Homo sapiens: one gene and its partners. The protein of the gene in region 3 purifies or fractionates together with the protein of the main gene of each other region. This does not show direct contact. Each region holds a gene or a part of one and is shown on either strand. Other genes may lie near its edges.

Evidence for each region. Proteins that work in one complex are often made in the same cells at the same time.
Region 1: the proteins of SPINK5 (region 3) and OLFM4 purify together in Homo sapiens (co-immunoprecipitation; one large-scale study listed by IntAct). This does not show direct contact.
Region 2: the proteins of SPINK5 (region 3) and SYT11 purify together in Homo sapiens (co-immunoprecipitation; one large-scale study listed by IntAct). This does not show direct contact.

What each region holds. Positions count from the first base shown.
Region 1 is NC_000013.11:53,042,313-53,045,848, forward strand, and holds part of OLFM4 (olfactomedin-4 precursor), read left to right. Parts: intron 1-792; coding exon 793-952; intron 953-3,536. UniProt on the Homo sapiens protein: May promote proliferation of pancreatic cancer cells by favoring the transition from the S to G2/M phase. In myeloid leukemic cell lines, inhibits cell growth and induces cell differentiation and apoptosis.
Region 2 is NC_000001.11:155,862,567-155,866,102, forward strand, and holds part of SYT11 (synaptotagmin-11), read left to right. Parts: intron 1-3,536. UniProt on the Homo sapiens protein: Synaptotagmin family member involved in vesicular and membrane trafficking which does not bind Ca(2+). Inhibits clathrin-mediated and bulk endocytosis, functions to ensure precision in vesicle retrieval.
Region 3 is NC_000005.10:148,098,260-148,101,979, forward strand, and holds part of SPINK5 (serine protease inhibitor Kazal-type 5 isoform b preproprotein), read left to right. Parts: intron 1-974; coding exon 975-1,056; intron 1,057-2,194; coding exon 2,195-2,322; intron 2,323-3,095; coding exon 3,096-3,177; intron 3,178-3,521; coding exon 3,522-3,649; intron 3,650-3,720. UniProt on the Homo sapiens protein: Serine protease inhibitor, probably important for the anti-inflammatory and/or antimicrobial protection of mucous epithelia.

The DNA.
Region 1 (3,536 bases), on a different chromosome or scaffold from region 3:
GGGAATGTGCTGACTTAGGAGCAGATGTTGTCTAATGGTCAGAATCCTGCCCCAGAATAAAATGCCCTTTCAACTTCTCTGAAAAGGAGCTGGCATAAAGTTGAACAACGGTTCATGGCCAAGCTATATGAGGTGTCTTCTCTGCTCTAGATTTATCCTCATGGAACTAGAAATCCACAATATACCTGATTGTGGTAAAATTGCTAGGTTTGTTTCTCCTTTTGAATAACCTGGAATCCTTCTCTGCAAACTGGAAACCCCCTTTAAGAAATTTCTTGTATATTTCTGTAAAGCCTTTTAAGATCTGTGGATAAAGACCATCACATTAACGTTATGGTTGGGTAATTTATATCAACAAAAATTTACTAGCACAGTCATGACATGGGCTATAATTGAGAATTCTAGTTACGTATTTTAGAATTTAAGCTTTCTCTGGCCCTCACCATTCATTAGAATCTTAATTATAATACAACATGAGTAAACACAAGTTTATAGGGGAAGGTTATTAGAAATGAACTTTAATGGACATTTGTGGATGCTGAGGATGAGCTTGGGCTCTATTATTAAAGCTATTAAAATCTTTGCCATTTTCTTCTTGTCACACACATCTGCCTGAGATCTGACAGGCATTCATGCTAAACCATAAAATGTATTCTTCCAAATGAAACCATTCAGAAGAATCTCTGGTGTATTCTCTGGCAATGTTTCACTAAATGACAAATTCAGCCCTGGAATGTTTATGAAAGAAATTGCACCATAATATAAAGTCACTCTGAATTTTTATTTCCTTAGATAAGAAATATGACTCTCTTGGTAGAGAAGCTTGAGACACTAGACAAAAACAATGTCCTTGCCATTCGCCGAGAAATCGTGGCTCTGAAGACCAAGCTGAAAGAGTGTGAGGCCTCTAAAGATCAAAACACCCCTGTCGTCCACCCTCCTCCCACTCCAGGTAAGCATGCCAGTTTTTTTAACCACTTGTGCCAGACCCCATAAGGAGCTGTGAGTGGGGTGGGGAAGGGATTGGGGATTGCAATGGTGAAAGAAGAAGGTGGGTTGTTTTTTTTTTTTTTTTTTCAGTTCTCAGTTTTCTCTTCCATGTTTTAAAATTCCCTTCCTCCCAAGTATTCTACATGCTATCATATTCTGGGTTTCAAAGAGGAAGAGCACAAACAATGAGTTGATTTAAAGCAAAATCCACGAGTTACACGTATTCTCTTTGCATTTTCTAACAGGGAACAAAAATCTCTATGGTGATGGAGGCCCTATCAGGGGCCTCAGGGGAAAGCCTCTGGAATCTGTGTGTGGCATCCACTTTCCTGTGGAGTTAAGGACTGATTGGCTCACTTATCTGATGAGCTGGGTTTATGCCTTTGATGCTGCCATCTTCTCTCTCTCCTTCTGTTTCTCTTTAATTTTTTCTTTTTTCTTCCTATAAATGCATGCTGAGCACCTGCTATATTGTGTGTCCTGAGATTCAGTGAGGATTAAAGGAATGACCCCACATATCATGTGCTTGTGGGTGTGTCTTGCCATTCCTCATGGATTGTGAGTTCTTGGAGTAGGGGTGGCATGTTCGTCTTTAATGAATTCTCATTGGGGTTAAGTACAGCACAGAGGTGGGTGTTCTGCAAATATACCCATGAACAGAGGCAGTGGAGTGTAGGGTACAAGAACATAGCTTTAGAATTCCAAAGACCTGAGCTTCTCAGCTAGGTGGCTGCAGCAAAAAGGATCCTTAATATCCTCATTTGTAAAATGGGAGAATAATAGTGCCTGCCTTGCAGGGTGGCTGTGGGGATTAATGAGTCAGTGCTTGGGAAGCTCGGAACCTTATGATCGGCACTCACACGCTGGCAATGGATATTGTTAATAATGTTGATAATTGAAGCGAAAGCCTTGCAGCAAAACAAAAGCAGTGCCAGATTACTGTGCCCTGCAATGCATTCCTTCAGGTAAACTAAAGCCTCTCAGCCACAGTGTTCAGCCCCATCCTTTAGAGATATCAATGACACAGGGACCTTCTCTCTGCAGGTCCTGAGCATCTTAGCCTGAGTGGGGACTGTATCTTTTCATCAAATCATGCAATCCTTTTATTTTTATGAATTCCAATCCTCACACCTGCTTTCTTTTAGACTGTGTTTCTGGATTATTGTCATTGTAACTGATTTTTTAAGGCTTCAATTATTAAATAGGTATAGCCATAGATATAAGCCTCTTGGTCTTCTTCAGGTGGATTTTTTTCCTCCCTCTGCAAATAGGAGTGTGTCCTACTATGACAGGTGTCATCTAATGGTTAGAATCCTGCCCCAGAATGAAATGGCCTTTCAACTTCTCCAGAAAGGAGGTGACATAAATTTGAACAACTGTTCAAATTTCGCATCCTGCATAGGAGGTTTAGGGCAGACAACATGGTCTGTCCTCTGTAATAAACTAAGGCTAAATTTAGTCTGGGATTAGTGGTGCAAAAATGTAGCAAATGAGAGCTGTTTCTGGTGGACCACAGAGGACTCACTGAGGCAGAGGCTGAAGCAATGACAACTCCTGATAATCCCTGAACGAGCTCCCCAACACCCCTTGCAAATCCTCCTCATGGAATAGATTTTTCTGGCACAATTTTCTATGCATCCCTTAGAATGAGGACATTTTAGATGAAGGAATATTCAGGGCCATCTAACTTAGCCTCGTCTTGTCTCAGAGGAGAAGACGTGGATGGTAAGAACGCTGCTTTTCCTGAGGCCACACAAGTAGTTAATGACAGAGCAGAAGCTGCAAGGCAAGGGTCTTTGCTCCCTGGTCAGTTCAGGACCGAAGGTGTCAGGCAGCAGTAATCCAAGGACAACGGTGGGGAGAAAATGCATTGCTTAGTATCCAGGGAAGAAAACAAGTGAGCCTGTTGGGTTGTTTTTGTTGGATTTTTTTTTTCCCAGAACTTTCCCCTAGGCCCTCACACTTAGACTTCTGTGATCCATCCTAGCCCAGCTGTGTTGTTTAAGCAAATTGGACCCAGATTTTTACTCACTTTCCCACAACCTTGGCTGTACCTGAATCCCTGCCAAGCCACTTGGCTCTCTTCCAGCTTTGTTCATATTATATTTATGATGTTTATATTAAACTGACTTTTGGTCATGTTTTTAAATCAATTTCTTTCACTTGCTCTCTTTCTGTTTGGATTGGTTGATAATGCAGAATTGGAAAATCCCCAAGCACCACAAACTTGTGAGCCTGTGGAGACTTTAATTAAAGTTATTCTCTATTATGGGACTTTAAAATCTGGCCTGTCTGCTTTTTTCACTGCAGAGTTGCACAGAATAAAAAAGACTATATGCAAGTCTCAGCTCTAAAGTAACTCTGCGCTCTCTGGGCCCCCTCCCTTATAGCTACAGTTTGCTGACCCAGTGGTCAGCTTGAACTTAGAACAAGTGAATGTATCCCAGGTTCAATAAAATATGCTTCCTATTTGGTTTTTGCTACAAACAACGTCCTTTTTCTGCCTCATTTCATAGAACTTTCTAATCTAAAATAATTGGCCTTCT
Region 2 (3,536 bases), on a different chromosome or scaffold from region 3:
TACCCTATCTCCATTTTCTAACAATAAAAGTTGATGCATTGTAAATATGTAAGCAGCAGTGGGTTGCCCCCCGCTCCTCCACCGCACTGCTGCAGGGAATAAATCTATGATAGAGCCAAAAGAATTGCCCAGGTGTCTCCTAATCTAAGCCTTCAGATCTCTCTTTATGATCATTCCAAAAAATATGCCTGTCTTGGTAGTTTGCTGTGTTCCTCTTCTCATAGAGACAGTGTTCAGTTTCACTAATGAGTAGCAAACAATTTGCAGGAAAGCACCTGATTGATGAATGGAGAGCCACTTCCTTAGGCTGTGCCCATTCTTAATGGCAACTGAATCCAATTAGTTGTTCAACCAAATATTTACTGAACTCCTATTAGAAGCAAGAGACTCTTGAGGGATTCAAAGATCCATAGGATATTGTTCCTGCCTGCCTTCAAGTAGCTTACTACCAAGGCTGTCTCCATTTTGTGAAAACTTTCCCTAAAAGCTATTTCATTTAATACTTTGAGACTAAACACTATTATTATTCGGTATGGATATAGACATGGTCACCTTGATTTATTTTGTTAATAATGTTTTGCTCCTTATCTATATTATTTTAAAATGTACCCGGGTACAGTGGGTCGTGCTTATAATTCCAGCGACTCAAGAGACTGAGGCAAGAGGATCTTGAGGCCAGGAATTCAAAACCAGACTGGGCAACATAGCACCTTGTCTCTAAAAAAAATTTTTTTTAATTAGCCAGGCATAGTGGCATGGTCCTGTAGTCCCAGCTATTCAGGAGTCTAGGGTAGTAAGATTGCTTGAGCCCAGGAGTTCAAGGCTGCAGTGAGCTGTGATTGCACCACTGCACTCCAGCCTGGGCCACAGAGTGAGACCACGTCTCTAAAAAAATAATAACAATAAATATATATTTTAAATAAAATGTAACTCTTCCTTGGTTAGGCATGGTGGCTTGCACCTGTAATCCCAGCAATTTGGTGGAGACTAAAGCAGAATTGCTTGAGCCCAGGAGTTCAAGACCACCTGGGCAATATAGTGAAGACTCATCTCTAAAAAAAATTTAAAAATTAGCTGGGCATGGTGGCTCATGCCTGTAATCCTAGCACTTTGGGGGGCCAAGGCTGGCAGATCACTTGAGGTCAGGAGTTCGAGACCAGCGTGGCCAATATGGTGAAACCCCGTCTCTACTAAAAATACAAAAACTGGCCAGGTGTAGTGGCATGTGCTGGTAATCCCAGCTACTCAGGAAGCTGAGGCAGGAGAATCACTTGAACCAGGGAGGCAGAGGTTGCAGTGAGCCGAGATCGCGCCATTGCACTCAAGTCTGGGCAAAGCAAGACTCCATCTCAAAAAAAAAAAAAATTAACCAGGCATGATGGCACATGCCTGTAGTCCTAGTTCCTCAGGAGGCTGAGGCAAGAAGATCATTTGAACTGGGGAGGTCAAAGCTTCAGTAAGCTGCGATCATGCATGCCACTGCACTCCAGCCTGAGTGACATGGTGAAATTCCATCTCTGCAAAAAATACGAAAATTAGCCAGGTGTGATGGCATGTGCCTGTAGTCCCAGCTACTCAGGAGGCTGAGGCAGGAGGATCACTTGAGCCCAGGTGGTGGAGGTTGCAGTGGGCCAAGCTTGTGCCACTGCACTCCAGCCTAGGCAATAAAATGAGACGCTGTCTCAAAAGAAATAAAAAAAGTAAGCTCTACCACAATGCCTGGCAGGGACATATAAATTTACACAAAAAATAGCAATTTTATTATTGTCACTGCTATACACAATATTACATGTATATTATGACCAGTGCAGATGAAATTATACCTGCCTCTCATGTAATCTGGACATTATGCTCATAGTATTGTGCTCATGATGCTCATAGGCTTTCTAGAGAAGATAAACCCTTCATCTAGGTTTGGAGGGAAGAAAAAGCCATGGATTGGTTGGAGAGGATAGGAGAGGATACCTCTAATAGAAGGGAAAACAGTAGGCATTATACTAATTATAGTCCAAGATTGTGGTTGCCTAAATTCCTAAGTCATTTTTGACTCATCAAGTGAGGTTATTGACTATAAATAGGTTTTTGAGTCCAAATAGAAATTTACATTTATCCCTGATATATGTAATCATCTTGACTCAATCCTTTTTTTTTTTTTTTTTTTTGAGATGGAGTCTCACTCTGTCACCCAGAATGGAGTGCAGTAGCACAATCTCAGCTCACTGCAGCCTCCGCCTCCGAGGTTCAAGCTATTCTCCTGCCTCAGCCTCCCAGGTAGCTGGGATTACAGGCACCTGCCACCATGCCAGGCTAAGTTTTGAATTTTTAGTAGAGACAGGGTTTCACCATGTTGGCCAGGCTGGTCTCGAACTCCTGACCTCAGGTGATCTGCCTACCTCAGCCTCCCAAAGTGCTGGGATTACAGGCATGAGCCACCGCACCAGGCCTCAATCCTCTCTTTCTAATCTGTGGAGGCTGTTTTGAATTCACTGACTCTTTTGTTCACTGAACGCTTACTACATGCCGCATAGTTCTAGGACGTGGAACTATAGCAGTGAACAAAACAGACAAAGTTGCTGTTTTATTAAGCTTGTCTAGTGATCAAAGAAAGATAATAAATATATGTCAGGATAATAAGCTCCATGAAGAAAATTAAGGAAGGGTGATGGGGACATTATCTTACTTGGGGCAGACAGGAAATATTTCCCTCATCCAGTGAGGTTCGGGGCTCACGATAAGTGAAGCAGTGAGCTGCACAGATGCCTGATACAAGAATGCTTTAGGCCGGGCGCGGTGGCTCATGCCTGTAATCCCAGCACTTTGGGAGGCCGAGGCAATTGGATCACTTGCGGTTAGGAGTTCGAGACCAGCCTGACCAACGTGGAGAAACCCTGTCTCTACTAAAAATACAAAAATTAGCCGGACATGGTGGCGCATGCCTGTAATCCCAGCTACTCGGGAGGCTGAGGCAGGAGAATTGCTTGAACTCTGGAGGCGGAGGTTGCGGTGAGCCGTGATCGTGCCATTGTACTTTAGCCTGGGCAACAAGAGCAAAACTCTGTCTCAAAAAAAAAAAAAAAGAATATTCCAGAAAGAATCGGGGAAATGCTGGAATTATGTCTATTTCCTTTTCTTTTTTTTCCTCGCTCTGTTGCCCAGGCTGGAGTGCAGTGGCACGATTTTAACTCACTGCAACCTCCACCTCCTGGGCTCAAGTGATCCTCTTACCTTGGCCTCCCAAATAGCTGGGACTACAGGCATGTGCCACCATGCCCTGCTAATTTTTGTAATTTTTTTGTGTAGAGATGGGGTTTTGCCATGTTGCCCAGGCTACATTTATTTCCTTAGTTCTCCCTCCCTTCCAAGTGGTCCCCTAAAAAGTAAAGTGGAAAAAACTATAGGCCTAATCTGGACCTTTAAAGCCTAAACCCAATTTAGCCTCAATGAACTTGAGGGAGCGAAGAAACTTGAGGGTCCAATTTTTGTGGGAAAAGATAAGACTAGGGTAAGGGAAACAAAAAAAAAATCTATTTCTCTTT
Region 3 (3,720 bases):
TCCTGAAACTTCACACGTTAGCCTGTTTTAGCAATTTATAGGTATCTCATCTTCCATGGGAGTTAAGAGTCCAAAGGTGATGCTTAATGTAGAAATGGAATAAAGTCAAAATTCCCATGAAACAACACTAAACTCCTATAAAATTACAATGGGTATTATTTTATGTAATGCAATATTTCTCAATAAGTTAGAATGGACAGTTTTCTTTCAAGATTTACGATAGCTCTTTATTTGGCTGAGCTCAAATTAAGTATTTAACTTATATTTAGAATCTATGGCTTTCTTTGTTTTGATTGACAACTACATATGGTTGAAATATCATCAGTTAACTGTACATACTGTGCAATTCCATTGTACAAAGCAAATTTAGGCTTATTTGTTTTATCAGTATATGGAAATTATTGTGGTTTTTTTTTTCACATCTTGTCCTTTAGATGAAACAGCTATGAGTAAGCAAAATATTTAAGTTTAAAGCAAAGCTAGGGTACACATGGTGTGATAGATAGACCATGGTCTTGAGGGAGGAGACCTTGGTTGTAGTCATATCCTGAGATGTAGCAAAGACCCCCTCTACCTCTCATCTTCTCTGATTAACAAGGGGATGAGTAGATGTGCTTTGTTAAGGCCACTTTCAGCCTTCAGGTTATGCCACCATGATTTTAGTTTTGGTGCCTCTGTTATGAACATTGATCATGCTCCTTTTCTTACTATGGGCAAGAAAACTAATTTACAGAAAGCAAGTATCCCAGATCCACTATTGCCGTCTTTCTTTCAACATTAAACAGACATTATGAAGAAATCATAGCACCATACTATCCTGGAGGATATTTTGTTGCTTCTCATTGATATGCAGTGATAAAGGGACAAAATTGTTCCACTCTAAGGAGGGAGAACAGTTAACAGTGCAAGGATGTGGAGAAATCATGGCATGTGTTTGTTCCTAATGGATCTGCTTCTTTTTCCCTCTTATTCAGCCAAGCAGAAAATGAAGAAAAGAAAAAGGCTGAAGCACGAGCTAGAAACAAAAGAGAATCTGGAAAAGCAACCTCATATGCAGTGAGTGGAATCCATCCAATAAATCCTATTTGGTGCTATAATTTGAACAAATTTTAAGAGCCTAAAGGGTGAGATTTTGCCCTGCAGAAATCCCCAGAATATCTTAACTCTTCAATCTGGGGATGGTATTGAGATGAATTATATGGGAAGATTGATCCATTCTTGCTGATTAAAAACTAACTCTGCAAAAAAAAAAAAAAAAAATTGTTTAAAAGCTGAAAAACTGAGTTCTACTTCTAGTTTTATCACTTATAGACTGTTAGCTTTTGCTAACTACTTTCCAGAGAAATTCTACATGTATGCTTTCTACATATGAGTTTCTGATATTTCACATCTAATTTGAGATAAAAAATACCTTGATTCCCCCACCAACGCATGATTTTTATCCCTGAAATATTACAATATTAGTTTCCAAAGCCTTAGCTCAGTTATCATCACCAATGGTTTTGATGATAAAAGTCTCCTAATTTTCACTCTGGATTTTATCCTTTCCCTTGCCCAACCAGTCTCCCTAACATAGTTGGAGTAATGTTTCAAAATGTAAATAAGATCATAATATTGCTCTTAAAACCCACAAGCAGCTCATCATCATATACAGGATATGCTTTAATCCTGTTATCTCTCCTCTTATTTGTATCCTTATCTCCATTCAGAAAATCATGCTCTGCTATGTGCCATGTCTTTTCCTACCTGTGTTTTTCAGCTAGTTTTATTTTCATAAACCTGTGTGCGTATTTCCCAATTCACTTTTTTTTGCCCAGTCAAATCCTATTTACACTTCCACAGTCTCACCTAAATTGTTCTTGCTCCCTGACACCTTCCCTGGTTTCCTTTGAGTTCTCAGATTTTATTGTACCCTGTATGTTCGTACCTATTTTATTCTGTTTAGATTATAGTGGAATTTGCTTATATATTGCTTGTATTATATGGGGACATTGTGCTATGTTTTATTTTTTCCTATCTCTTGGCATATGATGTTTTTCTTGTTGTCAAATTGAATTTTACATTTGAGAAAAACACAATTAAAATCCTCAGCTCAAAGAGATGTAACATTAGTTTCTGCCAATGTAGATGTTTGAACCTTCTGCTTTAAGTAGAAATGAAATATATGGCCAACTTACTTCTTCTATCTCGGCAGGAGCTTTGCAGTGAATATCGAAAGCTTGTGAGGAACGGAAAACTTGCTTGCACCAGAGAGAACGATCCTATCCAGGGCCCAGATGGGAAAGTGCATGGCAACACCTGCTCCATGTGTGAGGTCTTCTTGTGAGTAGCCCTGCAGCTGGGAACATGGAGGAATGATTTTGTTCTTTCTATTTCATTTCCATGTTCAATTATGGGAGGGCCACTTCAACATAAAAATGAAAGAATTAAGGCATATTTAGAGAAACTGTCTGATTGGAGACATGTATTTGAAAATCCATGTCCTTTGAAGATTGTCAAGACTTCACACTTAAGCAAGGAGAAAGTCATAATCTTGAAATATTCAAGTAGTTTTGTCTTTTAAGTGTGGAAACAGGACAAGTTCTAGCTTATCTCCGTGAATAAAAGTGAGGCCAGTGGGCCAAAGAATGAAAGGTCTGGAAGACAGGTTCCAAGTGGATGCCAGGAAGAACTTCCTAACAGTTTGCGGATTTCAAAGATGGATGATTTACCATGGAATTCCAAGGATGATATCAGTACAGACTTTACAGGCAGATTAAAGCAAAGGCTTGGGAGTCATTAGAGATACAGTAATGAGCATTGGAAATTTAGAAAACCACCTCTGGACTAGGGTTTAAATCCCAAGTCTGTACTTATTATTTCTATATCTTCAGGTGAGTTATGCATTCCGTCTGTCAGTTTATTTGTATGTTGGGGTTATAATAATAGTTTTGTAATGCAATTGTGAGGATTTCACAGTGTAAGCACAGGGTTAGGCACATCACATTCAAAGAATTTAATCGTTGTTAAGTGTAAAATTAAATTATATTTGAGATCACTTCTAATGTGGCGATTCTATGATTTTTACTTATCTCTTCTTAACCATCCTTTTTTAGCCAAGCAGAAGAAGAAGAAAAGAAAAAGAAGGAAGGTAAATCAAGAAACAAAAGACAATCTAAGAGTACAGCTTCCTTTGAGGTGAGTTTATATCCTCCAGCAACTCAGAGGGATATGGCCCTGAGGATCCACAGATCATGTTCAGGGAACACGTGCATTCCTTAAAACTGTATGAAACAATTGTACAGTTTGTGTTTTCATATGTGTTTTCATGTGTGCAGTTATACATGTGCATATGTGACTATTTCTTGGTTGTTGGGTTCATTGTTTTTATCACTTAAAAAATCCATGCCTTCAAAGTTAATCATTCTAAAATAAGCCAATTGCTAATCCTCGTTTAAGAAAAAAAGTACAAGCTTTAGCTATTTTTGCAATCTGATTCAGCCTATGTTCAACACTTTCAACTTCCTGCCTCAATTTCACAGGAGTTGTGTAGTGAATACCGCAAATCCAGGAAAAACGGACGGCTTTTTTGCACCAGAGAGAATGACCCCATCCAGGGCCCAGATGGAAAAATGCATGGCAACACCTGCTCCATGTGTGAGGCCTTCTTGTGAGTAGAGCAGTAGCCCCATAGCGTCTGAGGATTGAGCAGTGGGAATTTCCATGGGAAGTTTTCAAACC